Homo sapiens: one gene and its partners. The protein of the gene in region 1 interacts with the protein of each later gene in a biochemical or structural test. Each region holds a gene or a part of one and is shown in the gene's direction. Other genes may lie near its edges. The genes, in order: LRP6, MDK, KREMEN1 and GSK3A.

The links.
Region 2: the proteins of LRP6 (region 1) and MDK form a complex in vitro, tested with the Homo sapiens proteins (one study listed by BioGRID).
Region 3: the proteins of LRP6 (region 1) and KREMEN1 interact in a biophysical measurement, tested with the Homo sapiens proteins (one study listed by IntAct).
Region 4: the proteins of LRP6 (region 1) and GSK3A form a complex in vitro, tested with the Homo sapiens proteins (one study listed by BioGRID).

Annotation. Positions count from the first base shown.
Region 1 is NC_000012.12:12,117,045-12,124,076, reverse strand, and holds part of LRP6 (low-density lipoprotein receptor-related protein 6 isoform b precursor), read left to right. Parts: intron 1-748; coding exon of another isoform or gene 749-798; exon of another isoform or gene 799-895; intron 896-1,471; coding exon of another isoform or gene 1,472-1,562; exon of another isoform or gene 1,563-1,585; intron 1,586-2,656; coding exon 2,657-2,951; 3' UTR 2,952-7,032. UniProt on the Homo sapiens protein: Component of the Wnt-Fzd-LRP5-LRP6 complex that triggers beta-catenin signaling through inducing aggregation of receptor-ligand complexes into ribosome-sized signalosomes.
Region 2 is NC_000011.10:46,377,566-46,384,305, forward strand, and holds MDK (midkine isoform a precursor), read left to right. Parts: upstream 1-4,103; 5' UTR 4,104-4,193; exon of another isoform or gene 4,194-4,491; 5' UTR 4,492-4,492; coding exon 4,493-4,568; intron 4,569-4,728; coding exon 4,729-4,896; intron 4,897-5,021; coding exon 5,022-5,183; intron 5,184-5,903; coding exon 5,904-5,929; 3' UTR 5,930-6,236; downstream 6,237-6,740. Other genes in the region: DGKZ (diacylglycerol kinase zeta), read left to right, coding at 633-664, 892-935, 1,426-1,546, 1,638-1,671, 1,904-2,003, 2,266-2,382. UniProt on the Homo sapiens protein: Secreted protein that functions as a cytokine and growth factor and mediates its signal through cell-surface proteoglycan and non-proteoglycan receptors. Binds cell-surface proteoglycan receptors via their chondroitin sulfate (CS) groups.
Region 3 is NC_000022.11:29,090,035-29,097,034, forward strand, and holds part of KREMEN1 (kremen protein 1 isoform 3 precursor), read left to right. Parts: intron 1-4,223; coding exon 4,224-4,386; intron 4,387-7,000. UniProt on the Homo sapiens protein: Receptor for Dickkopf proteins. Cooperates with DKK1/2 to inhibit Wnt/beta-catenin signaling by promoting the endocytosis of Wnt receptors LRP5 and LRP6.
Region 4 is NC_000019.10:42,239,572-42,247,124, reverse strand, and holds the start of GSK3A (glycogen synthase kinase-3 alpha), read left to right. Parts: upstream 1-4,522; 5' UTR 4,523-4,659; coding exon 4,660-4,942; intron 4,943-6,982; coding exon 6,983-7,170; intron 7,171-7,553. UniProt on the Homo sapiens protein: Constitutively active protein kinase that acts as a negative regulator in the hormonal control of glucose homeostasis, Wnt signaling and regulation of transcription factors and microtubules, by phosphorylating and inactivating glycogen synthase (GYS1 or GYS2), CTNNB1/beta-catenin, APC and AXIN1.

The DNA of each region.
Region 1 (7,032 bases):
TTTTAAGAGAGTCACAAATGCTGGCTTTTATAATAATAAAATACAGCCTCAGGCTTTGGCAGTATTCTAAGGAGGAATTACCCACCAAAGTGACTGGTTTCAAAATAGTTTGATATTCTAAGAATGAAATATTGGGATAAGATTGGTTCATAGAATTGAGAGTTTAAAACAGCAACATACTCAGAGCACAGAATTTTAGAAAAGTTGAGAGAAATGTAAGTTCAGCCATTGCTTGCATATGCTATTACAATTTGGAGTGAAAGATTTCTCATGTAGTTGCATGGAATAAAGAAAGATTGAAATAAATAAAGTGTATTTGTAAGCCAAAAAAGAGAAAATTATTCCTTTTTGCTAATTTATGAGTCTATAAAGTGTGTTGAGCAGGTCAAGTACTGTTGTGTCAGCTTCCACTTCTATGTTCCTTGAAAGGCCAACAGACCATCAGTAGCTTGAGAGTTTCTATCTACACACTGAAGTGCCCAGGGTTCATGGGCATCCCTCAAGTGCCTGTTATCTTCTAGATAATCTTTTCTATCTTCTATCCTCTCTAGATAATCTTCTATTATCTTTCCTAGCATTTCAGTCAAATTGGCCTGATACGACCTCACCCATGTGTAGAAATGAAGTGGAAACCACTTAAAGTATCTCACTCAGAATTCTCATTTCAGCTTAGATAAGACTGAAATAGCCTTGGCTGTGAACTGATTGTTTTAATGATATGTTGTAATGTTGCTTTCCCTGCCACAAGTTTCTTCTTCTAGGAAGCCAAAACAGAAAAAGCAGAAGCCTGAAAATTGAGAAAGGAGAAAGATACAAAATTTTATTTTTTAAAAGTAATGTCCTTAATTCAAATTGACTAAGGCACTCATCAGAATAAACACGATTGCATAAAAAACTATTCTTGCTTAACTATTTTCCGTATAAGCCCAATTTCTGTTTCCTCTGAGTCAAAACTTACATCATTTGTTGAGATTTTGGTTTAAACTGGGACATGAAAAAATTTTATTAATTCAGTTTGTTTTCTTTTTTTTTTTTCATGAAAATAGAAGTATTTGGACTTTTAAATGTTGACCTTAGAAATTTCACCAAGGATTGACACCTGATTGGACAAAGAGTTAAACAAAACAAACTGTGACATCATGTCAGTATTGATAGTAAAAGCCTTTGAGAACTCACTCAGTGGGTCATATAACTTTTGGTCTCTGGCAGCCTTGCACCCTTTTTATTTTTATTTTTATTTTTTTTGAGACAGGGTCTTGCTCTGTCACCCAGGCTGGAGTGCAGGGGCACAATCACAGCTTACTGCAGTCTCCACCTCCCGGGCTCAAGCAGTCCTCCTGCTTCAGCCACCCAAGTAGCTGGGACTACAGGTGTGTGTCACCACGCCTGGCTAGCTTTTTTTTATTTTTTGTAGAGACGGGGTCTTGCTATGGTGCCCAGGCTGGTTTCTTTCTTTCTTTCTTTTTTAAAGACTAATCAAATGCAGTAGTAAGAAGGGGAGACAGAGTAGAACAAGGAATTTGATCTGTGACTGTGAACAATCTGGCAGCCATTTCTTTTGAAGCAAGCCAAGTGATATCAAATGGTTTGTATCCTGGGTTCCTGGGATATATTACCTGGTGGTGCTCTGTATCACTAGGTGTTTTATGAATCGTTGTATCAGTTTTTAACTTGGTTTTCCCCTTCTCTTGTAGTCACTTTGATGAGAAAGCTTATGAAAAAATCTTTGGGATAAATTTAAGATCAGCTTTACCATATTTAGAATAAACAGGTATAAGAAGTTAAAAATAGAAGTAGGAATGACAGAAAAGCCAGAACTTAGGTCAGATCTTATTTTCACTAGTATGTTTCTCTCTTTCCAATGCCTTTTTCTTTAGTTAGCAGTGCTACAAACCTAACAACTGTATGTCACTTGTAAAGATAAACAAGTGTAAGAAATAAACTAGGCCTCTGAAATATACATTAGAAAATTCACTGACCCTTTATGGGCATTTAAATTTTATCATTTTGATGTTTAAAGCTGCTCTTATGAGAGGTACTTACCTATACACAGGGAATGAAAACCGTTTCCCCCAATCACAGCAATTTCCCTTTGCTAAGATAACAACAATGGAATAGTTATGCCCCTGAGGCTGTCTACCAAAATCCAGCCTGGACTGTACAGAAATTGTACAGAATTGTACAGAAGAAAGAAATGAAGACTTCAGATGTCATTAAATTAATTATTCATCAGGTTAATTTTGGAGTAAAGAATGTTGAGGGAATGCTGACATGTTTGAGTAGTGTAAAATATGTAAAAACCCATTCTTCCCATGGGCTATGAAACTGCAGAACAAATTTGAATAGTCATTTTTTATTCTGTGATACAGTTTAACTTGAAGATGTAAGAGCACAACCAGAGGCTAGATTGAATTCACCTCTGCATTCCCATCCTGTTCATTTTCACTTGCCACTTTCTTATTTGCAAATAAGAAAGTACCTGCTATTTTCCTCAGCGAATCTGCCATTGAAAATTGCCTCTTGGTCTGTGTAAATTTAAATTGCAGTAGCTTATTGTTTTCATAGGGTAGTTGACATCTAATACCTCTATTCTGAGAGGGGAAATCATTTTTTTTTGTAAAACTAACTGCTTCTCTTTATTTTCTCCCTATACCAGCTACAGGCCATATAGCTACCGGCACTTTGCACCCCCCACCACACCCTGCAGCACAGATGTTTGTGACAGTGACTATGCTCCTAGTCGGAGAATGACCTCAGTGGCAACAGCCAAGGGCTATACCAGTGACTTGAACTATGATTCAGAACCTGTGCCCCCACCTCCCACACCCCGAAGCCAATACTTGTCAGCAGAGGAGAACTATGAAAGCTGCCCACCTTCTCCATACACAGAGAGGAGCTATTCTCATCACCTCTACCCACCGCCACCCTCTCCCTGTACAGACTCCTCCTGAGGAGGGGCCCTCCTCCTCTGACTGCCTCCAACGTAAAAATGTAAATATAAATTTGGTTGAGATCTGGAGGGGGGGAGGGAGCTATTAGAGAAGGATGAGGCAGACCATGTACAGTTAAAATTATAAAATGGGGTAGGGAATACTGGAGATATTTGTACAGAAGAAAAGGATATTTATATATTTTCTTAAAACAGCAGATTTGCTGCTTGTGCCATAAAAGTTTGTATAAAAAAAATTTGTACTAAAAGTTTTATTTTTGCAAACTAAATACACAAAGCATGCCTTAAACCCAGTGAAGCAACTGAGTACAAAGGAAACAGGAATAATAAAGGCATCACTGACCAGGAATATCTGGGCTTTATTGATACCAAAAATAAAAAAGAGGAAGAAGAAAAATTAAGTCCATCTCAGAGCAGCAAACCATAGATACATGGATGTAGCCAGATAGCCTTCAGTTAACTAACATTTGAGGGCCAACAAGTAAGAAATGATGAAAGGAAAAAAATGCAATTAATACTAACCTTGGACGAAGGGCTTTGTTTTCTCTAGGAATCCAACAGTGCTAGTGAGGAAAGTAGATATTTCTAAAAACCCATTCTGGGTGTTGCTGTTGTAGGAGAGATCAGCCCTCTGGTAAGATGCCATGAAGCTGTGTGTGTGTGCAAGTCTCTGTCCCTACCTTTAGAATCCATACCTCTGTCAAAATGAATTTTTTTCTCTAGGTATGTTTACCTTGCTGCCTCCTCCAGCAACTTGGTAAGTCATTTTGCTAAGATACCATGATTTTTTTAAGCTGAAGCATTGACTAAATGGAATTTTCTAAATTAAACTTGATTTTAATATTTCTTCTAGCTCCATTCCCCAGTAGGCTTAGCTCTTCAATTTGACTGCTGTTTTTGCATAATGATCAAAAGTTAGACATATTATTTCTCTTCTTCCAAGATTGTTTTAATGCTCATTAAAATGTCTTTTTACAACACATATAGACAATGTTTAAGAATTAAAAATTTAACCATTATGTTTTTGTTGTAAATCTCATATCCTTGCACTACTTTCAGCATATATCACAGTACGAAATCATTTATATATATATATATATATATATATATATATATATATATATATATATATATATTTTGTTTGTTTGTTTGTTTTCTGAGTAAAACATTTAAATATGTTCTGGTTAGAGACAATCTATTTAAAAAGATTTTTTTCTTATTAGGATTTTCCCTATATTAACAGTTTGTGATGTTTTCATGTTCTTTAGACCGGTTTTTCTCAGAATAATGTCTACATACATACCTCTTCTAATGTGTGACATGAATTTAATATCTTTCTGTTACCCACTGTGAATGTTAGGCTGTTTTCAAATTATCCACAAATTATTCTTGTAATCACCCAATATTTTTATGTGGGTCCTCTCTTACCCATTATGGATTAAGATAGTTTAACAAATTTAACAATGAGGATTAAATGAGAAGGCAAACTGTTAACTTCTCAGCTGTCAGAATTTGGGTGGAAGGGAATAATGGAAGCCTCTTTTGTGATCTGCCTGACCTGCTGTCATGTATGGTACTGGGGCTGCTACATCTTGAGCTATCAGGGCTGACCTGTGGAATGATTCTAGCACTTGCTCTGCCACCTTGCCAGAAGTTCGTTTCCTGCTTTTTACACATGTGTAGCACTTCTCTGCTAAAATTGAATGGTTTTAAACTAATGTATTTTTAGCTTAAGAGGTGTTGGTCAGTTAATTATTGAATTTTTTTTTTTTCTTTTTTAATTCTGTCTTGCCAAGGCCTCTCTGGGTTTCAGGGCCCAAGAGAAAACAGTGGAAGAAAGGATTCAGAATTTGGGCAAGGGTGAAGTAACTGTTCATGCAAGTTAAAAATACCTAAGTAAAGTTTTTGAAGATAAAATTGTGGTTTCAGAATAATGCTGATTGTTGGAGACTGTAAGAATCAGGTGCACTTGATTTTGCATATAAGCAAATGGTAAATCTATCAGAATCCTAAAACAGACAAGCATGAACTCTTCCCATTGCTGGAACTAAGTGCCCACAGTGTCAGACAAAATGGACATTGAACTTGGATTCTGTGATACACAGGGCACTTGATGCTTAAATGAAGATGGAAAGGTTAGCAATACCTGGGTGTCAGTTAGAATTTGAGAATTCTATATGTTTACATATTTAAATGTGCATCTTGATCTGGTGGGCTTCCCATGTGGAGACTTGCACTCTAATTAACTAAGAAGAATATTGCCTTGTTGGATCTCAGTCCACGTGCTTGCACTGCGATGGCAATGGCCTCTTCTTCAAAATACTAATTTGTGTGCCAATTTGTTTAAAATTATTTGAAGGCAGTTCAGCCTAATCTCAGTGTTCTCTTTCTGGGGTAGATGAGATGGATTCTTAATATTTCTGGGAGTACTTTTTAATGAGAGAATTGTCAAATTTGGAAAGATTTATTGAGCCTTAGGTTACATGGACAGTTAAGCTTAAGTAAACTGTATATTGATTATCAAACACAAGCTGTAATTGGAAAAGTTGAGAGGAAAAGCATGAGATCACAAATTAGGGGGAAAAAAGAAAAGGGATTTTTAAATTTGGTGTATTAAATTCATTGTCCAAGGGGGAAAATGAATAATGTTTCATTAGATTCCTTATATGCAAAAGTATTTATTTTGAACATGTGTCCTAAAATATATGCACTAACTGATGTGATTAAAATTGTCCAAGAAATAAACTTGAGCATAACATACTTTGTGTGCACCACAGTAAGCTATTCTGCATTGAAGTGGTCTTTTATAACTAAGGCCTGGACTTTGCTCCAACAGAGTCGTGGTCTTCTGAATAGTGACTTAAGGAGTTTTGTTTGCTTAAGTCAGATAATAGCACATTCACAGGGAAACAAAGAGAGTTGGTGGATAGAATTTTCTGACTATTAATTTTTCTTCCATGAAATTTTATTATGCCTTTGGCACTTTCTGCCACTCTTACAGCATATCACAAGATATCTGTTTAGCAGAAGATTATGTAGTTACTTTAATTTTAATATAAAAGTAGCTTGTGATACATTACCAAGAGATCTCTGATTCTTTAGTAAGTTTGAGAACACCTATTCTACAGAGATGATAGGTACTTAGAAATGAAGACTTTAAAGTACATTTTAATCTAATATAGGCCAGTAATTGGGGGAAGGGGCTTTGAGCAGTACAATTTTAAGATGATTTTGAGGGTTGTATTTCTTTATCATTTAAAAATATCCTAAAGTCAGTAATTTATATGAAGGAAACTCATTCATTATTGAAGGTATTAAAAATAGCCATCATCTGTATTAGGTAGCAGTTTTGGAGGATCATCTTTTTCTTTTGCTATAAAGCCCTATTAATGAAGAATACTTCCAGTAGAGTTAATAGCTGTAGCTTACCTAGTGTGTTAATGAAGTGTGTTTATTTATGTGACTTGATACCAGTAGTCATAATAGAGACTGAAGAGGTATGCGTTAAGCACGCCTACTTCTATGCAGTAAACAGGCTGCAGCTGCCTAGATTAGATTCTTAGAAATGTCATATTTTGAATTGTTTTATTTCTTGTAGGGGAAGCTTTGTCCCACTTCATTCATTTGCATGCCATAGGAATTACATATTGGTTATCATTACGTATCTAACAAGATTCAGAAACAAAAATCTTGGACTTTTCACATCCGAAATATGTCAGCTCTTAATAAATGTGTGGTGCTTAAGTCTACATATGGCATCCATAGTTGATTTAGAGTATGGATATGAGTGTGTTGACCAGTTATCAGTAGGTGGACAAATATTTGGGCATCTACAGATGAGACTATGCACTAAGTGTGGACTGAGTCCTAAAGAAGCTTATAGTCAGGTGTTGTTTAAAACATTATCAGAATTCTTAAACCCAAGGAATTTAATTTTATTTGGTATTTCTTAAGCCTAAAATGAACCAAGAGAAAGATGATTTTAGAAAGTACTTGTAGTGAAAGATGATTTTAGAAAGTACTTGTAGTGCATGTGTGGCTTCTGACTTTTGGGATGGCACCATTTTATAATAGTTTCAAAA
Region 2 (6,740 bases), on another chromosome or scaffold:
TCGAACCCCCATCTCCATACCACGGTCAACTAAAAATGCAGAGCATACCAGGCCACTCCCCAACCTAGAAGCTTCTTTCTCAGCAGCCCTTTGGACGTGGATTCTCCCCAGGCCCCCCGTCATTGCACTGGGCTCCCAGCCCCCTCCCTGAGTTCACCTCCATGGTCCTGCCCCACTCTCTTCTCTTGGTTCTTTGAGGCATCAGGTGTTTGCCACCACTGGACTTCTGTCATCGCTGCCTCCAACTCTTCCCCCATCTTTCCGGAGCTCCCCCACCCCCATCCCCTTCGAATCTCAGCTTGGCTGTTTCCTCCTTGGAGAGATCACTCCCAGGACCCCCTCTGCAGGGGTGCCACATCACCTGTTCTGAATTCTTAAGAGCACCCCTGCTCTCAGAACTCCTTATTTATTTGACTTGTTTGTATCCCTGAACTAGAATGTAAGCTCCATGAGGGCAAGGCCTTCCTCTGTCTCGTTTCCCTGCTGTATCCCCAGTGCCTGGAATAGTGCTTGGTGTGTAGCAGGCACTCAATAAACTGTGGAAAGGATGAAGATGCCCCCAGTTGGGGTTGGGGAGGGCGACCAGCTGGCCTGTGCCGTAGCCGGTCACAGCACATCATGCTCTGTTGCAGGTCACTGCAAGGGGATGCTGCACCCCCTCAAGGTGAGGCCTCTCCCTCTGGGGCCCCTCCTTTCTGCCTGGTTGGGGGCAGGAGGCTCAGTGGGGTGGGGATAGGGCCCAGACACAGCCTTACACAAACACAGCCTTTGAGCTTCACGCACCAACGGAGCCCTGGGCACACATGCCTGGCCGGCACAGTCCTGTCCACTGAGGCACCAACCCAAGCCCAGGCCTCCGACTGCAGAGTAACAGGCAGGTATTCCGTGCAGGTGAAGAGCTGATTGAGGCTGCCAAGAGGAACGACTTCTGTAAGGTACTAGCTCCAGGCTCCAGTTCCTTCCCCCAGCAGCTCCCTCGGGCCCTGGGGAGCGAGGCCTCTGGGTTGGGCCAAGAGCTGACCTGCTCAGGTGCTGTCATCTGTCATCGTCTGGCCCTCTGTGGGATCTCCAGTGATCGTCCCATTCCACTTCACTGTATCTCTGTCTAGGCCACAATAGATGGCTCCTAGTAGGGGCTTCCTAGCTCAGTCCACCTGTCCCTGGTGCTTAGAAAGGAGCAGGTCAGAGGAAGCACTGCTCCAGGGCTTGGTCACCAGTGCTGCCAGAGAGCCCACAGGCTGTGGGGTGAGAGGCCCCTCCTCCGGTGTGCTCCAGAGAGACCCACAGAGGCAACTCAGGAGTAAGATGTGTGAGCGCACTCGTTTCAGGCCTGTGCTGGTGTACCCGGCTGTGGGCCAGCGTGTGAGCTCAGGGAAGGAGGGGTGGCCCCAGGAGGTCCAGCCCTGCCATGCCTCCTGCCCTCAGCTCCAGGAGCTGCACCGAGCTGGGGGCGACCTCATGCACCGAGACGAGCAGAGTCGCACGCTCCTGCACCACGCAGTCAGCACTGGCAGCAAGGATGTGGTCCGCTACCTGCTGGACCACGGTGAGCCGGGCAGTGGAGCCCAGGGCCTGGGGCCAAGGTGGGAGGAGGAGGGGCTGCCAGGCCTCTCTGACCACCACCTCCCCTTCTCCAGCCCCCCCAGAGATCCTTGATGCGGTGGAGGAAAAGTAAGTATCTGGGCAGTGCAGAACCGTGGTCACCCCGGAAACCACCCTTTTCCCCACCCCTCCCATTTTGTCAGGTCAGAGCCCATAAACTTCCTGGTCACATCTGTCATCCCCTGGGCCACCCCTATTGCCCCAGAGCCCTGAACTTCCTGCCCTTTCTGATGGCCCTTGGGAGACAGATGGGTGGATCAGGGGACGGGATGGGGTACACAGCCAGCCCCTGCTCCCCCAGCGGGGAGACCTGTTTGCACCAAGCAGCGGCCCTGGGCCAGCGCACCATCTGCCACTACATCGTGGAGGCCGGGGCCTCGCTCATGAAGACAGACCAGCAGGTGAGCAGACGGCAGGCAGGGAGCCCACGAGGGCACCAACCAAACCTTTCCCAAGGTCCTAGGCGGGAGCTGGGGCTGGGGGCTGTCCCTGGGAAGACACAGTCCAGACCCTGGGAAACCTGAGCCAGCAGGGGAGGAGCTGGTGGGCAGAGAGGCCTCCCTCCCTGACCAGGCCACAGGGAGGTAGAGCCCCTGCCTCTCAGCCTGCTAGGGGTTAGGCCTGCCTCTGGCCCCTGCTGATCGCAGCTCCGCCCTCCTCCAGGGCGACACTCCCCGGCAGCGGGCTGAGAAGGCTCAGGACACCGAGCTGGCCGCCTACCTGGAGAACCGGCAGCACTACCAGATGATCCAGCGGGAGGACCAGGAGACGGCTGTGTAGCGGGCCGCCCACGGGCAGCAGGAGGGACAATGCGGCCAGGGGACGAGCGCCTTCCTTGCCCACCTCACTGCCACATTCCAGTGGGACGGCCACGGGGGGACCTAGGCCCCAGGGAAAGAGCCCCATGCCGCCCCCTAAGGAGCCGCCCAGACCTAGGGCTGGACTCAGGAGCTGGGGGGGCCTCACCTGTTCCCCTGAGGACCCCGCCGGACCCGGAGGCTCACAGGGAACAAGACACGGCTGGGTTGGATATGCCTTTGCCGGGGTTCTGGGGCAGGGCGCTCCCTGGCCGCAGCAGATGCCCTCCCAGGAGTGGAGGGGCTGGAGAGGGGGAGGCCTTCGGGAAGAGGCTTCCTGGGCCCCCTGGTCTTCGGCCGGGTCCCCAGCCCCCGCTCCTGCCCCACCCCACCTCCTCCGGGCTTCCTCCCGGAAACTCAGCGCCTGCTGCACTTGCCTGCCCTGCCTTGCTTGGCACCCGCTCCGGCGACCCTCCCCGCTCCCCTGTCATTTCATCGCGGACTGTGCGGCCTGGGGGTGGGGGGCGGGACTCTCACGGTGACATGTTTACAGCTGGGTGTGACTCAGTAAAGTGGATTTTTTTTTCTTTTCTGCTTTTCTTCTTTTGCGGGGGAGGTCTAACAAGCAGCGGGGGCTGCGGGGTTGTCCTCGGGGTGGGGGACTGGACGCTGTCGACAGCACCTTCCTGGGGCCCCGGCTCCCGTTTGGTGGTTGGTCCCAGGGCCTGCCCGGTTCCTGACCTCTGCCCGGCGGCCGCGCTCGTCGGGGCCGGGGGCGGGGCCGATCCCTCCGGCTTCCCGCTTCCCGCGGAGAACAACAATGAAAGTGAAAGAGGGGTGGGGCGGGGGCGAGCCCGGGTTCTGTGGCCCATTTGCCCTGTGGCCTTGAGCAAGCCCCTCCCCCAGGCCTCGGGGGCTCTCCCGGTTTGGGGGAACCGGGCGAGGCAATGCCACAGGCCCAGGGTTAGAGGGGGTGGGCACTTGCAGCTGCCGATGTGGCTGGATCTGGAACTTCTCAGACGGCTCCTGTCAGCGCCAAGTTTCACCAAATCCAGGCCTGCGGGCTCCTCCCCCAGGACCCCCACTCGCAGTCCCTCAAGCCTGTGCTCCCGGAAAGGCACTGGGCGACCGCACCCGTGGCTTTCTCTGGGCGACCGGGTCCCAGACTCCCCCCAGCACAGCAGAGCGCTTCCCTGCCCACCCGCGGAAACCGCCCCAGGTGGGCCGCGCCCCCTCCCCAGCAGCCAGCAGGGCGCCAGGGCTGAGCCGGCCGTGGAGGGGAGCGGGTCCCGCGGGTTATACAGGCGCCGGGGCTCCGCGGCAGGCAAGAGAAGCTGAGGCCTGAGAACGGCCCGGGCCTTGGCGTACGGCAGGGGACGACCTGGGATGGGGGCAGCGGGCGGCGGCGCAGGGAGTGGGCCGGGGGCCGGTGTGCGCGGGCGGGACGGGGCCCGGGGTCGGGAGACCACCGCTCGGAAGATGGGGCCGGGAGAGGCCGCCGTCGCAGCGCAGAGGGCACCGGCGGGGAGACGCGAGGACGCGGGGCCGGGAACACGGACGCCGGAGTAGAAGCGCGGGGGGCGCGGGCTGGAGCGGGGGCGGGGACGCCGGGGTCGGGGGCGGTGCGGGTTTGAGGGGAGGGGGCGGGGCGGGTCCTTCCCTGGGGGGGTGGGGAGAGGGGGCGGGGGCCCATGTGACCGGCTCAGACCGGTTCTGGAGACAAAAGGGGCCGCGGCGGCCGGAGCGGGACGGGCCCGGCGCGGGAGGGAGCGAAGCAGCGCGGGCAGCGAGCGAGTGAGCGCGCGGCGGCCCCTGGTCCGCCCGGCCGCGGCCGATCTAGGGGCTGGGGGCTGGAGGCGGGGGTGGGGGTCTGAGCTGCGTCCTGGGCTCGAGGCGTCCCCCGGGGAGTCGCCTCTTAGCGGTGCGTCCGGGCTAGCGGCGAGGGGCCGCCCCAAGTCTTCCCACCGCCGCCACCTTAGCAGCCCGACTTGGGGCCTGGAAAGTGGAGCACGCGGAGGTGGGAGGGCCCTGCACGCGGCCCCCGGTGGGGAAGGGGACGGGCCAGGGATTCAGACTCGGGCTCTCCCCTCAGGATGCAGCACCGAGGCTTCCTCCTCCTCACCCTCCTCGCCCTGCTGGCGCTCACCTCCGCGGTCGCCAAAAAGAAAGGTGATGGGGGATGATCGAAGGAGGGCTGGGGACGGGCAGGCGAGGCCCCTCCACTTCTGGGCTGGGCCGCCTGGGTTCCTAGCCTGGAACCCCAGGAAGGCGGCTCCCGAGGGAGTCTCCCCGTGCCCCAGTCCTGAACTCTGTTCCTCGCGCGTTGTAGATAAGGTGAAGAAGGGCGGCCCGGGGAGCGAGTGCGCTGAGTGGGCCTGGGGGCCCTGCACCCCCAGCAGCAAGGATTGCGGCGTGGGTTTCCGCGAGGGCACCTGCGGGGCCCAGACCCAGCGCATCCGGTGCAGGGTGCCCTGCAACTGGAAGAAGGAGTTTGGAGGTGAGGCGGGGCGCAGTCAGAGGGCAGGAGACGGGGGGCACAGCCTCGCCGAAGCCTGGGCGGACCCTTGGCGGAGGGCGGGGCCGCGGGCCGCGCAGCGCTGACCTGGGCCGCTCTCTCGCCAGCCGACTGCAAGTACAAGTTTGAGAACTGGGGTGCGTGTGATGGGGGCACAGGCACCAAAGTCCGCCAAGGCACCCTGAAGAAGGCGCGCTACAATGCTCAGTGCCAGGAGACCATCCGCGTCACCAAGCCCTGCACCCCCAAGACCAAAGCAAAGGCCAAAGGTCAGCGAAAGGAGAAGGGGGTGGGGCTGTCGCGGGGGGCTGCCCCCCCCCCCCCCCGCCTGTGAGGGGACAATTCCAAGTTAAACCTTAAGTTTTGAGTCCTGGCCAGTGGCTTCCTGACATCGCCTCACTTGGCTTCCCTGCCTGGAAAAGTCTGAAGATGGGCACTACAAGAGAGGCCGCAGGTGATGCTGGGGACATAAATCCTCCCTGGCCCAAATAGGGACCAACTCAAACTACTCCATTGGAGCATCTGGCTTAGGACCCAGGGAGAGTGTCCTGGAACGGCTTGCCTTTGTCAGCTCTCCAGCCACGGGCAGCATTTGGTCAGCTCTGCCCTTTCTAGTGTTGGGAGGAGGTCAAGGCCCACCCTGGGCCTCTCAGCTCACTCGTGACTCAGCCCAGCGAGGCCAGCAGGGCAGGGGTGAATCTGCCCGCTTCTCAGGTGAGGAGGCTGAGGATGCCCAGGGCTGCTGTGACCAGGACTAGGACTGGAAACTTGAAGGTTTTCTGATCCCAAGTGGAAATAGGAAGCTGGGGATGTCCCATGTCCACATCACAATGGCTGCCCCATCCCCTGCTTCCGAGTCAGCTGATTGGAAACCACTAGGGGGCAGAATCTTCTCCTTCCCTGATGCCCGGGTGTTTGTGGAGCCGGCGGTCTGCAATGGGTCAGCCTAACTGCTGATATGGTATTAATATTTCTTTCTTGTTTTACAGCCAAGAAAGGGAAGGGAAAGGACTAGACGCCAAGCCTGGATGCCAAGGAGCCCCTGGTGTCACATGGGGCCTGGCCCACGCCCTCCCTCTCCCAGGCCCGAGATGTGACCCACCAGTGCCTTCTGTCTGCTCGTTAGCTTTAATCAATCATGCCCTGCCTTGTCCCTCTCACTCCCCAGCCCCACCCCTAAGTGCCCAAAGTGGGGAGGGACAAGGGATTCTGGGAAGCTTGAGCCTCCCCCAAAGCAATGTGAGTCCCAGAGCCCGCTTTTGTTCTTCCCCACAATTCCATTACTAAGAAACACATCAAATAAACTGACTTTTTCCCCCCAATAAAAGCTCTTCTTTTTTAATATATAAAAGCCCCTTCCCAAGGAGTTTGCTGTGGAAATGTGTTTGGGAGTGGGAAGGTGGGGAGAAAGACCAGGCTGTAGGGACTGGTGGGTTTCAGGGGGCTTGGTGGTGGGTGCTCTCCAGAGCTCATGGAAAAAGCAGAACAATTACAAACATTTCTTCCAGGGCCCCTGAAAGGGTGCTCCCCATCAAGTCACCTAAGCCTTTCGGTCCTCATCTCCCTCAGGGACCAGGGCTGGGGAAGGGAACCTGGCTGACTCACTGGAACCACCACACCCATCTCAGCCTCACCCAGTCAAAGGTCTTTTGATACAACCCACAGCCAATCAGGAAGGTTCTACCCATGGGGGAGAGCAGATGCGAGGGCTGCGTGCCTACCTCACTGCCCACCTCCCCCCTTCCCACTGTCATGGAAACCCGAGTGAGCCACCAGGTTGACCCCTTTCCTCTTGCCTGTGTGACCCAGGCCTCCACCCTGCAGAA
Region 3 (7,000 bases), on another chromosome or scaffold:
TTATAAACATGTAAGCTCCATGAATACAGGATATTTGTTCATCTCTGTAGCCCCAGTGCTGTGAACAGTGCCAGGCACATAGTATTGAATAAATATTTGCTGAACTAATTAATGAATAATTTCCTAGACATTAGATCTCTTGCTTTCACTCATTCTCTTTTCACTGAATACGTAAATAAACAGTTGGCTCTGTGTGTGTGTGTTTCTTACTGGTTTAAGCCGCTCCTTGCTTATTTAGCCAAAGCTTACATCAGTTTCGTAGCAGTAGAAAATAAGGGAGGCTGGGAGCTACATGATAGACCTTATGAACACAAAGAAGGAAACAGCAGACACTGGGGTCTACTTGAGGGTGGAGGGTGGGAGGAGGGAGATCAGCAGGAAGATAACTGTTGGGTACCTGGGTGATGAAATAATCTGTACAACACACCCCTGTGACATGAGTTTACCTGTGTAACAAACCTTCACATGTACCCCTGAACCCAAAATAAAAGTTAAAAAACTTAACATGATCACGATAGAAAACAGTGTGGAGGTTCCTCAAATGATTCAAAATAGAATGACCATATTCTAGCAATCTCAGTTCTAGGTATATATTCAAAGGAAATAAAATCACTGTTTTGAAGAAAAAAAATAAGGGAGGTAGGGTCCTATTTACCTAACATACACCCTAGTACTCTGATGAAATCAAGATGCGCTAGATGACTTTAAATGCAGAGCATTCGAGTTGGTTTCCCTTGCTTTTCTCTGTAATTGATATGTACTGGGCAAGTCTGGTCAAAAAACAATCACAGAATCTGATACACTGCCTCAGTTTCACCAGTGTAACTGAGAACAAGATTGGGTCTGAGAGGAACAGACCCAAGCAAAGAAGCCTGCACTTTCCCATTTCCACTCTCAGATGCCATCTCGTCTCCATGAGGACTGTCATGTGTGTGCATTTTATTTATTTATTTATTGAGACAGAGTTTCACTCTTGTTGCCCCAGCTGGAGTGCAAAGGCACGATCTCGGCTCACCACAACCTCCGCCTCCTGGGTTCAAGCGATTCTCCTGCCTCAGCTTCCCAAGTAGCTGGGATTACAGGCATGCACTACCACCCCCGGCTAATTTTGTATTTTTAGTAGAGACGGCGTTTCTCCATGTTGGCCAGGCTGGTCTCGAACTCCTGACCTCAGGTGATCCGCTCGCCTCGGCCTCCCAAAGTGCTGGGATTACAGGCTTGAGCCACTGTGCCCGGCCATGGATTCTTTTTATTACACATTCTGCTACATTCTTTTGTATTACAAACCAAGTCATCCGAGTCTCAGGAACCCCACCTGTCCTGCAGTTTGCTATGTATAGCTAAGACCTTCCATTGATCTATTGAGCTGCATCTCTGATTTCTGGCCCCTGGATCACCCTTCACACTTTAAAAAAAATTTTATTTTTATCCTATATATTTAAGGGGTACAGTATGATGTTTTGATGTACAAATTCTGATAGGAGAAAAACATGTATTAACACACAGCAATTAAAATTCTAGCAATTGGCAAGGGTTGGCTGATGTTCTTAGAATCATCTAGTCTAGTGGTTCTCAAACCTGATTGCTTAACAGAACCACCTGGGCTGCCTTTCAGAAATACAGGTTTCAGGTCCTGCTCTAGCTCTGGGATTGGGATAGAGCTCTGGTGTGTCTGGTGTGGTACATACCACACACATTGTCTCTCTCTCTCTCTTTCTCTCAGATCACATATATTTCTTGTGATAGTAAGTGTTGTGAAGCAAACAAAGGGCAGAAAAATAGGAGTAAAGATGATGAGAAGGGCTTTCTGAGAAGGTAGTGTTCAGTCTGTGATGGGAAGTATTAGGGGAAGAACATTTTGGGCAGGAAATAGCATAGTGTGTTCACAGAATTAAAAGCAGACCAGTGTGGCCGAAGCACAGCGAGTGAGTAAGGGAAGAGCTCTGCTTCATGGGAGGAAGGGGCTGAGGCTGCATCACAGAGGCCTTGCAGACACCGAGGAAGAGTCTGAGTTTTGTTTTGAGTGCCATCATTCTTTTAAGAACTATGGAGAATGGATTGTGAGAGAACAGAAGTGGAAGCTGTGAGACCCAAACTGTTCTCTGATGATAAAGGGGACTATACTGGTGGCATCAAAGATGGAGAGAAGGCAGTTTCAGGGTGTATGTTTTAGGGAAGTCAACAGGACTTGCTGACGAATCGGAAGTGGAGTGAGGGAGAGAATGGGAGAAGCAAGAATGATGCTGAGGAGGGTCCATTAGAGGCAGTATAGGGTGTGGTCGAGTGCCCAGCTCCCTTATCTGTAAAATGGGGTACTAAGGTACCTCTCTGGGTTGGTGGCAAGTTGACATTTGTGAAGCACTTAGACAGAGTTTGGCACATGGTAAAACACTGTGTAAATATTAGAAGTGATTTGGATGATGTTTATTCATCCAAGGTCGCACAGCTGGTCAGCAGCAGGTCCAGGACAAGAAGCCAAGGCTTAGTCTCTTGGTTTAGTGCATTTTATGCGACACTGAACTGCCTCCTTCAATTTATGCCTCCTTTGAACTTATTTGTGCAGACTCTTGGTAGAGGGGTTTGGTCCTTATGGTACACGAAGAGTTGCACTTATCATAACACATGAGCATTGCACCAAACATGATAAATTGTTAGGGTTGGTGGGGTGTGGTGGCTGACACCTATAATCCCAGCACTCTGGGAGGCCCAGGTGGGTGGATCACTTGAGGTTGGGAGTTTGAGACCAGCCTGGCCAACATGGTGAAACCCTGTATCTACTAAAAATACAAAATTAGCTGGGCATGGTGGTGGGTGCCTGTAATCCCAGTTACTAGGGAGGCCGAGGCAGGAGAATCGCTTGAACCTGGGAGGCGGAGGTTGTGGTGAGCCAAGATTGCAACACTGCACTCCAGCCTGGGCAACAGAGTGAGACTCCATTCAAAAAATAAAAATAATAAAAAATAAATTCCTAGGGTTTCTTGCATAGGTGGACATTCAGATTATTTTGGCTATCCATAAAATGGTGCCATTCCAGACAAAACACAGGGCCTGGATGGTCAGAGGAAGGAGGTGCTGGAAGAGAGATGTTCTGTGGATAGTTTGAAGTATTAAAAGAAATATCTGCCAGAATGTGTTCATGTTGTTCACACGCTTAGACTGGAGTAGGCACATGGATGACAACAGGAGATGGCATTAAGAGTCCTTAATACTGGAAGTTATAGGTCAGTGCATGCCAGGAGAAGGAAAGAAATGCAGCTAAGAATGCTAGTGTAACTCCCCCAGGTTGTCAGTTTTCTAATGATATATCTTAAAGAAGTGTTTGAAGTGCTTCTGTCAGTTTCAACTAAGCTAATTTTAAAAAATTGTTCTTTGTACTGTGCCTGTCTCATGAACCTCTTCGAGTTTAATGCATGCAATATGTGGGTGAAAATCCTATCAGCCTCAGTCCCCATCCCCCAAAGTCTGAGAAGCAGATTTTAGAAACACATTGTTGCACCTGTGAGGATTTGTCATTTTATTAAATTGGACCTGAGACCATTTTCAATGTGCCTCATCAAAAGAATTTCAGAAAGAGGTGAGAGAAAATGCCAGCCCGGCCCTTCCTCCCTCATGTTGACTGTCTGTTTTGTTCCACCTCTATCTCAAACAGCATGGGGAGGACTGTTCTTCATTACCAGGGAATGTGAGTCATTCCCAGATTTGTGTGATTGGGATTCCAAAGCATTGCTGTATCCGATGATCTTATTAAATCCAAGTGTCAGTGCAGCCTTTCAGACTGTAGGGAAGAGCTCAGTTACAGCTGGTGACCTGGTTCCAGTTACCACACAGAGCCACTGGCGAGAGCAGTGACCCCCTCAGAGTATCCAGAATTCCACATGGATGGCTGTTACCAACTGTTCCCAGATTTAGGGGTTTCCTGGTTCACTTCATGGGCTTCAGTACACTTCAGCTCCCTGTTTATTTCCTAGTTGGGATCTGTATACTTTAGGGGAAAATGTTCTAGTGTCTGTAGACAAGCTAGTGCCAAGATTAGCCTAGCTTTTTGAGGGTACCTTGTTTCAGATTTATTCAGCCCCAGAAGTGTTAACTGCACTGTGTCCAGGATCTAGCAAGACACTATCCATTTCCAGCTTGGTCCAAACAAAACAAAACATCAACCAAAGAGGGAGGAAACCATGAATGTTGCCAGAAAATTAGTTTGCTCTGTCTTTTTTTTCTTCTAGAGTGTTTCACAGCCAATGGTGCGGATTATAGGGGAACACAGAACTGGACAGCACTACAAGGCGGGAAGCCATGTCTGTTTTGGAACGAGACTTTCCAGCATCCATACAACACTCTGAAATACCCCAACGGGGAGGGGGGCCTGGGTGAGCACAACTATTGCAGGTAAGATGGGGCCACTCAGTACTTTAAAAAGATAGATATATATCTAGTCTCTTCTTCCAACCCCTTTCATCCCAGCTCACAACTAGGGGAAGTCTTTTGACCAACTCAAGAGACTTATCTTGTCAGTTTTAAAAATATTTCTTTCACACCTTACACACACACACACACACACACACACACACACACACACACACAATTTACCACTCTTTTTTTTTTTTTTTGAGACGGCGTCTCGCTCTGTCGCCCAGGCTGGAGTGCAGTGGCGCGATCTCGGCTCACTGCAAGCTCCGCCTCCCGGGTTCACGCCATTCTCCTGCCTCAGCCTCCCGAGTAGCTGGGACTACAGGCGCCCGCCAACACGCCCGGCTAATTTTTCGTGTTTTTAGTAGAGACAGGGTTTCAACCGTGTTAGCCAGGATGGTCTCGATCTCCTGACCTTGTGATCCGCCCGCCTCAGCCTCCCAAAGTGCTGGGGTTACAGGCGTGAGCCACCGCGCCCGGCCAATTTACCACTCTTTTCAACATGGGTTGTTTTAATGCTGGCTTTGAAAGCTCTGCTTTTCTGTCTGATCACTTCCTTGTCTCTTTGGGAGGGTTTTCTTAGTTAGCCCTACCACCAGTGGACAATACACAGTTAGCAGAGCAGCCTACACTACCGAGAATGTCGTGGTCAGACAGCACCATGTGTGACCCAAATCTCCCTCTGCTTCTGAGCAAAGGAAGCTGCCTACATTGTTGTGCCTCCGGCCAGCCCAGGATAACCTTGCTCTGGGAACAGCTGTATCCATCAGATGTGTGCCATTTACTTCCTTTTAGTCGACTAAGGTGTTTCTTTGCTTTTCACCTCCCGTCTGACTCTAGCAGGGGATCTTAACCTGACATCTATGGTGCTTCAAAAGTGATTCACAATTTCCTGGGGATGATCCATAGCTTTGATCAGCTTCTCAAAGTTATCTGTGATTGAAAACAAGTTCAGGATCACTGGTATGTAGGGTCCAGAACAAAGACTGTAAGCACTTTTGGTTATACATTTGTGCTGCTTATGCCCAAGATCCTGGTAATGAGACTTATGGTTCAGCAATGCATTGAATTTAATTATTATTAGTACAGGTGCAAAGGCAGCCTCTTGAGCTACTGGGACAGGGAAAAATGATTGTTGAACTATATACCCTGTCCCTGGTTCTACATACATTGGAATCTCAACCATGGCACTGTTGACGCAGCTGAGCCAACATATATTTTCCTGTATTGTATGGGCCACACTGTTTACCTTCTGCCCTCTACATACCTTTGCTAACGCTCTAGGGCCCTTGTAGTTGTCTCAAAGTCACCAGGCCTTTAGTCTATGTTTTCTTTATCCCTATACCTTTCTCTATCTTGTATCAACTGACCATTCCCTCCTAGTTGCTATTGACTTATTTTGTTTGTTATAAAAGTGTTAAAAGCTTATTCTTAAAAAAAAAAACTTCTCCAACACCACAAATATATGTGGTTTAAATAGTTAAAATTCCCCATTTTACCTATTTTCCCTGAAACCCTCCCCACCAAGTCCCAAGTCCCAGAGACAACCAATTTGGGTATTTGCCACTTCACATTTTGCTATCTGTTGTATTTTATTGTTCAAGTTACACATGCTTATTAAATAGTTCTTTTATATTTTATTTTCCAAGTTATACATGTTAATTTATTTTTTGCATAAATTAAAAAATTAGTCCCACCCCATTTTTTATTACCTTCCCCTAGGTTTTCTATTCATAGGAATAGTTGGTTGGGTTGGGAAGAGTGTTTAGGAAGAGAGACAAGTATTTGGTTTTTGTTTTTCCATAGTTGCTTATCTTCTTGTTCCAAAATATCTCTTGGTAGTAGGCTGTTGGTTTATTCTATTGCTCTGTTGCTTCCTATCAAGCAAGTCTTCTCAGAAGAGCTCATGTTTTTAAGTCTGACTTTAAGGTAAATTTTAAGTTTCCAGTGAGGCCTAATTTATGTGAAAAATTTTTCTTTCTTGTGGATTAGCACCCACTTCTACTCACAGGCTTCTAGAAATGTACCCATAAACATCCATTAAGAGAGCAGTGAGAGCCAGGAGGGACCACCTTTCTCCTTAGCCCTGATCAGCCATCACATCAAACCCTCTCGTTTGATTTGATGGAATGCAGGAGACCTGAACTATTTAATACCAGTTTATACTTTGGAAAAGGGAGGCTGAAATTGTTGATTATCACATCAAAGAGCCCAGGCCTTTTGTTTTAGCACTGCAGCAAAGTCAAGGATGAATTTGCTTGTTCTTTATTAAGCTATTCTGATGCTTTTCAATATGGTTTTGACATTGATAATAAACAGTTTTCTAAGGGCTTTACCAAATAAATACATCAAAGCTGAACACCGAATAGAGGGAGGAAAATGACAATGAAATACTGTTTAAAGAAGGGCTTTGTACAAGTTCTCCTACTTTGATTTCTCAACTGACACCCGACACCATGTTTGTCTTGTGTGACTTTTTCAGACCCATCACATTAGAGATGTCTGAGAGTTGGTGAGTGATGGGAATGCACTTTTCTGGGCTCAAAGTAACTGGCTTAGAAGGGAAGGCAGAGACTGGGGAAGAGCAGAGTTG
Region 4 (7,553 bases), on another chromosome or scaffold:
GCTCTGAGTTCAGCTGGGAGTCCTTTGGAGAACAGCCTGTGGTGTCTCTTGAAATGTAGACCTTGCAAGGTAACTTGGTGATCTTCAGGTCCAGGTATGGGAACACCCCCAGCCAGCACACAGCCAAGGGACTGGCTCACTAGTCATCGATGCTGTTGACCTACTGTGTGTCCAATACTTAAGAGCTGCAGTGTTGTAGCTCCTTCAGTATCCAGTAAGGTAGGGGCAACCAGTGCTGCTAAGTGACTTGCCCAGGGCCCTGTGGCTGAGCCAGGACTTCAAAGCCCACGTTCTTTCAACAACTCCTGACTTTTCCTTCCTAACACCAAGATAGTTGGATCCAGATCAGGCTTTCAGGATCAGAGGATTTGAGATGAGCTCATAGAGCTAGAAGCTGAGATTGGAGAGCTTGAATCAGGGATGAAAGAATTAGGAGGAATAATCCAGGCTGGAAGTACCCTTAGAGACAAGTTCTGTCTCCACCATGCAGGTGAGGTGCCTGAGGCCCAGAAAGGGGAAGGGGTTTCCCCAAGGCCACACAGCTGCTAAGAGATGGAGTGGCAATTGAGGGCTTGTTGGACTGGCTTCGCCATGAAACTCCACCCTGTGCAACCCTGAGGGGGAAGAAACGTTGACTGGCAACTGCTACCCACTCGCATCTCATTTCATGCCAGCCAGGGTGGGTGGTCCCAGATGATGTCGGTTGGCAGGGAAGAGAGGATCCAGGGCTAGGATACTGGCAGGAAACCGAGGCTCCCGAGGCGGCCTGCGGGAAACTGCTCCCTCTCCTGGGTGATGTAAGTCATTCCCTGGGGTGGGGGCCACTGGGCTATTTCTGGAAGCTGGGATGAGACATGTCTCCTGGCAACATAGTTGCAGCTGAGTTGGTGGTGGTGGTGGGGTGATGGAGAAGGGGATGTTGTCACTCGGGAGGAGAGGACCCTAACTACTGGCCTCAGCCCCTGAACCCAGTGCCTTCAAAGCACCTCTAACCACATCTAATATGGAATCATAAGTGCTCAGCTCAGCTCCCTAACTGCTGTCCAGGTCAGACCACAGCCCTACCAGACAAGTTGCCCCAGATTCTGGCTGTGTAGGATGTCACAGGTGGCATTTGGCCTTGAAAACTCCAGCGGCTACTCTAACCTTTAATCGCCCACCTAAATCTATTAGCTAGCTGGCTTGAAATGTTCCTGCAAGAAGACACCCTTGGTCCCATCCATATCCTCTGAGATCCTTGCTTCCAAGTAGAAAGCCCTTTACAGATGCTCTCAAGGCACTTCACATATTAATTAATCTCATCAGAGACCTCCCTGCTTTGTACGTGTAGCCCCAGTACCTCCACAGACTCTCAAAGCCCCTTCCCAATGCTTCTCAACCATCCCTCACCCCTTCAGGTCGCTCAGAGATCCCCTTGGTCACCAGTAATTTCTGTCTCCCATAGACCTTTTTTTTTTTTCTTTTTTTTCAAAACAGAGTCTCACTCTGTTGCCCAGGGTGGAGTGCAGTGGTGCAATCTCAGCCCACTGCAACCTCAGCCTCCCAGGTTCAAGAGATTCTTGTGCCTCAGCTTCCCGAGTAGCTGGGATTACAGGCGTGGGCCACCACGCCCGGCTAATTTTTTTGTGTGTTTTTAGTAGAGATGGGGTTTCCTCCATGTTGGCCAGGCGGGTCTCGAACTTCTGACTGACCTCAAGTGATCCACGGCCTTGACCTCACAAAGTGCTGGGATTGCAAGTGTAAGCCATCGCGTCCACCCACCCATAGAACTTTTAGCAGACAGCCTAAGTCCCCTCAGGCTTCTCCACTGGTCCCCAGTAATTATCCTGTCAACTAAGCTCATCAAAGACCCCTTCACCACTCCACGGACTCCTCTTAGCCCTTCTAGACACCCATAGGCCTCTCTCAGACGTTTACAACCCTTCCTAGCATCCCTCTATGAACATTCTCATCCTCTACAAACATCCTGATAGATTGCAGACCGTCACCTTCAAACTCCCACGGACCCCAATCCCCTCGTGGCGGTTGCCCACACGCAGCGGCGCATGCCCCACGGGTTCTGGCGGTTAAATAACCCTCGCTATCCTGCCCCATGTCGCCGCCCTTTTGAGCCGTCTTGGTCCCGCGTTGGAATCCCTAGGCCAAGGGGCTCGACTGAAATTTTTACTTTTTGACTCAGAGCTGCCATCAGAGGGCAGCAGGTACCATTTGGCTGGGAAACTGCAACTCCCAGAAACGCCCGCGCCTAGCCGCGCGTGGTGCGGCCACCTGCTTTGTGAAGGGAGCGGAAGTGTTCCGCACTTTGCCTTCTGGGTAATGTAGTCTCAACAGGCTTTGGCGCTACCGACCCCCGCAGTTGTGTCCGCGGGGAATTGCAGTCAGGAACAAACTGAGTGGACAGGACTTTCTTCTGGTTTCAGAAAGGACAGGACAGTTAGTATAAGCACAAGCTCGGATTAACGTGAAGTCCAGAGACTCCATTTCCCACCATTCCAGGATGCGGGAGGGGCTGAGAACGCTTTCATTCTACTTCTAAGTATTTCCGGGGGAGGAAGAGACACATACAGACACAGGAACTCTGTTTCCCAGCGCCTTTTGGGGGCTACTCTCCTTCGGGTATTAATCGATAAATAGGACGACTCACTGAGTACACAAAACCTGAGGCAGCTGGCTTCCTTATTTTTGGCTTTCCGGGATCTTGTAATTTAGGAAGCGGAGGATGCAAAACACAAGAGTGGGAGGCCCGGTGCCGTGGCTCAAGCCTGAAATACCAGCACGTTGGAGGCTGAGGTAGAATCGCTTGAGCCCAGGAATTGGAGACCAGCCTGGGCAACATGGCGAAGCCCACCCCGCTACCCCCCACCACCCCAAAAAACAAACCAAACCAAATTAGCTGGGCGTGATGGTGCACGCCTGTAGTCCCACCTACATGGGAGGCTTAGGTGGGGGGATTGCTTGAGCCTGGGAGTTAGAGGCTGCAGTGACCTGTGATTGCGCCACTGCCCGCCAGCCTGGGCGGCAGAGCGAGACCCTGTCTCAAAACAAACCAAAAACTGAAAACTGAATGGTGGTTCAAGACAGGATTTTTTTTTTTTTGAGACGGAGTCTCACTCTTTTCGCCCAGACTGGAGTGCAGTGGCGCGATCTCGGCTCACTGCAACCTATGCCTCCCGGGTTCAAGCGATTCTCCTGCTTCAGCCTCCTGAGTAGCTGGTATTACAGGCGCCCGCCACCACACCCGGCTAATTTTTGTACTTTTAGTAGAGACGGGGGTTTCGCTATGTTGGCCAGGCTGGTCTCGAACTCCTGACCTCGGATGATCCGCCAGCCTCGGCCTCCCAAAGTGCTAGGATTACAGGCGTGAGCTACTGGCGCCCAGCCTGAGCCACAGCGCCAGGCCCAGAAATGACATTTCCGTCTTTTTAATGCTCCATTCAGCTTCCTGGTGCGAACCACATTGCTAGGAAAAGCTAGACTGTATCCGAAGACTAGTTAGTGTTCTGAGAAACCGCCGGGAACTTTGTTTCCCGAATCTTTGCAGAGTTGCGGTTAGAGAGGGGACATTTTTTCTTTCCTGATCTATGGTCACCTGGAACTTAAAGGTGCTTGGATCCATTTTCCAGCAGTCCTTGATCGACCTCGGCTCTTTCTTAAAGAAGGACCTGGGGGCGAGGAAGGAGGCGCTGAAACACTTTTAAGTCTCTCCAGGGAACTGCCGCAGTCTCTAACCTTTCGTTCACACGCCCCTGATGGTGGCCATTGGACTTCGCTTCCCGGCAAGCCTCCGCAGACTGGCCTCACAGAGGGTCAGGTCTGGACTATTCCCCAGCATGCTTGGAGCTCATGGGCGATCCCGCCCCCTCAGTCAATGGGGAGGATACGTCGAACTCCATTTCCCAGAACACACCAGGGCTCGCTGTGGCAACTGCACTGAGGCCTTGGTGCTGACTACACTTCCCGGCAGGGACTGCGGCCCAGCGTACCTGGAAAGAGGAGCGCGTAAACCTACTCCATTTCCTCGCCCATCTCCGGAACTGCAGTATCCACCTGGGGCTTAAAAACCACCTGAGACTCCATTTCCCGGCGTGCTTTAAAAATCGCTTTACACCTGCAATGCGGTGAGGGCGTGGCGACGACTCCATTTCCCGGCTTGCCTCACGGCCCGAGACCCGCAGGTTCACGCGGGCCGACTCAATTTCCCAGAGCGCACCGAGCTCTGGGAGGCATACACAGCTAATAGACTGAGTGAGTGGACTCCGTTTCCCAGCGTGCATCAGGCTCTCTGCTTCCTAAAGTGCTTCAGGGCTCCCCGTCGTACAGTCGGCTGACAGATTACCCTGGACTCCATTTCCCGACGTACAGCGTGACCCGTCATTCCCGCCCATCATTCCCGCGGTCTACTCTGAGGCTTTTGTGGACTTCATTTCCCGGCGTGCCACGCGGCTCTCTGTGCGGGCCGAGGGCGGTGACGGCGGCGCGGACGACAGCCGGACTGCATCTCCCGGCGTGCCCCGCGGCGGGCGCTGGGCCGGAGCCGGAGCCCAAGCCAGAGCGGCGCGGCCTGGAAGAGGCCAGGGCCCGGGGGAGGCGGCGGCAGCGGCGGCGGCTGGGGCAGCCCGGGCAGCCCGAGCCCCGCAGCCTGGGCCTGTGCTCGGCGCCATGAGCGGCGGCGGGCCTTCGGGAGGCGGCCCTGGGGGCTCGGGCAGGGCGCGGACTAGCTCGTTCGCGGAGCCCGGCGGCGGAGGCGGAGGAGGCGGCGGCGGCCCCGGAGGCTCGGCCTCCGGCCCAGGCGGCACCGGCGGCGGAAAGGCATCTGTCGGGGCCATGGGTGGGGGCGTCGGGGCCTCGAGCTCCGGGGGTGGACCCGGCGGCAGCGGCGGAGGAGGCAGCGGAGGCCCCGGCGCAGGCACTAGCTTCCCGCCGCCCGGGGTGAAGCTGGGCCGTGAGTACTAGTGGCGCCCGTGTAGGGTGGTGATTAGGGTTCCCAAAGCTCCTCAGACATCCATCAGATTCTTTCATGTGCTTAGATAGGAGCTCGAGGTCACTGTGCCTCCCCATACCGGGGATCCGAGCCCTCTTCCTCCCAGGAAAAGGAGTCTTGGGGTTACCATCTCTTGGAGATCAGAATTACTCGTGGATCAGAATTACTAACACTTAAAGAAACGGGTTACAAGTCTCTGTTCTTCCATTATTGAGGTCTTGGGTCCTTGAGCCTTAAGAACAGGTATCTGATGTTGCTATTCATTATAATATTGGATCAGAGGTCACAGTCGCTTGCAAATGGGGATCTAGGGTTATTGTCTCCTAAGAGAACAAGAATAAGACCAACCCCGAAAAAGAGGGATCTGCATTCCCTGTCCTTCAGAAGATGGGGATTTGGAGCGAATATCACTTAGAAGCAGGGCTTTGAGGTTACTGTGTTTTGTCCCCAAAGAATAGGGCCAGGCTTTCCAAACCTGGTACTCAGATCATCTTCCCTATTAAAACCAAGACCTGGCATCATTACCCACCCTAAATCTTGTTGAGCTGTACTGCCAATGGTGAGAATTAATAGTTACTGCCTTTTAGATATAAAGACATTGGGAGTCAGCATATCCTTCAAACCAAGTCCATAGTCCATGTTTTAAAATACATGGCTTGGTGTGTCTCCTTTAACAAAAATGGAATGGAGCAGGGTAGGTCACAGTTTCCTACAGAATATGGATCTAAGGTTATACTTTTTTAATAATTGTTCTAAGGTATGGTGTCATTGGCTCTGAAAAAAAAAAGTGATGTAGGGTTATCTCCCTCTGAAAGAACTTGTCACTGGCCCCTCAAAATGGATTTGGTGGCCGGGCGCGGTGGCTCACGCCTGTAATCCCAGCACTTTGGGAGGCTGAGGTGGGCGGATCACCTGCGGTCAGGAGTTCGAGACCAGCCTGGCCAACTGGTGGAACCCTGTCTCTACTAAAAATATAAAAAATTAGCTGGGCGTGGTGGCGGGCGCCTGTAATCCCAGCTTCTCGGGAGGCTGAGGCAGGAGAATCGCTTGAACCCAGCAGGCGGAGGTTGCAGTGAGTCGAGATCGTGCCACTGCACTCCAGCTGGGCAACGAGAGCGAAACTGTGTCTCAAAAAAAAAAACAAAAAAATGGATTTGGTTCATCAGTTACTCAAAGGGGTCACTATCCTCTAAGAATGGCACCAAGGTTTGCCACCATTTGAATAATGGGAATTGGGAATTATAGCTTTCCTTCAAAGGACTGAGGCTGGAATAGCTCCTTGATAATAAAGGTCAGGTTCATCATTATCATAATTTGGTGCTTGTCCATTAGGGACCACCCACATATAGTGAGGGGTCTGGGTCTCTGGACCACTCAGATGAAGAGGTCAGGTCAGTGTTTTTTTCTAACCTCAAAGTACCAAAAAGTGAGGGTCAGGGCACTGGCACTTATAGCAGGAGAGGACATTCATTTCTGTCACCAAGAACCAGTAAAGTTACCAGCTCTACAGGGGAGGACTTAGAGGTCAGTATCCTCTAGGCTGTGAGAGAGGTTAGTGCTTTCCTAAAGTAGGAGTACCTCAGGGTTACTGCTCCCTGAAGTGGAAGAGGCTCGGTCAAGCTTTCTCCAAATAGGAGGGGCCAGAGGGCAGTAGATCCAGAGTAGATGGAGTCAACATCTGATGTCTCCCAGTACCAAGATGGACCAGTGATCTGTTGCTTCCTAGAAGTAGAAATTTGGGGTTGCCAACCCTTGAAGCAGAGAGATTTAGGTATCAATATCCTCCTATGTGGAGGGGAGCAGGACTTAAGATTCCCAGAAAGGAAGAGGGGAAAAGTCACTGGGAAGGTCCCAGCATCCACCTTTCCTCAAAGAGGAGGAGGGGACAAAGAGGTCCCCAACGAGCTTCCTGCAGAGATTTCCCTTCCTCCCACAGCCCCAGGATAGGGTGATGCGCAGGCAGGATGGGTCAGTGGATCGTGTATCCCCTTTGTTCCCCAGGTGACAGCGGGAAGGTGACCACAGTCGTAGCCACTCTAGGCCAAGGCCCAGAGCGCTCCCAAGAAGTGGCTTACACGGACATCAAAGTGATTGGCAATGGCTCATTTGGGGTCGTGTACCAGGCACGGCTGGCAGAGACCAGGGAACTAGTCGCCATCAAGAAGGTTCTCCAGGACAAGAGGTTCAAGGTAGCTTGGGCGGGATGGGGACAGGGAGGTTTGGGGACTGGGTGTGACTGGTGGGAGAACCTGAGCCAGAGAGCTGGAGGCTTGGGTTTCAGAGCCATGGGCCAGAAGAGAAGGGGGAAAAGAGGAAATGAGACCTGTGAAAGATGGGAAATGTGGATCCCAGGAGAGCCCAGAGCTTTTACTGGGCATTTGCTCAATGTAAGTGCTTAATAAGCAAATTCTTGTTTAATTTACATAAAGATTCTCTGAGGGTAGGTACTGTGGTTATACCCATTCTAAGTGTAAGCTAAGTTTAAAAGCAGGGAAACAAACTCAGGTAAGAGGATTGCCTGAGGTCATAGAGCAAGTGCCCCAGTCAAGGCTGGAATCTGATTCCCAAACCC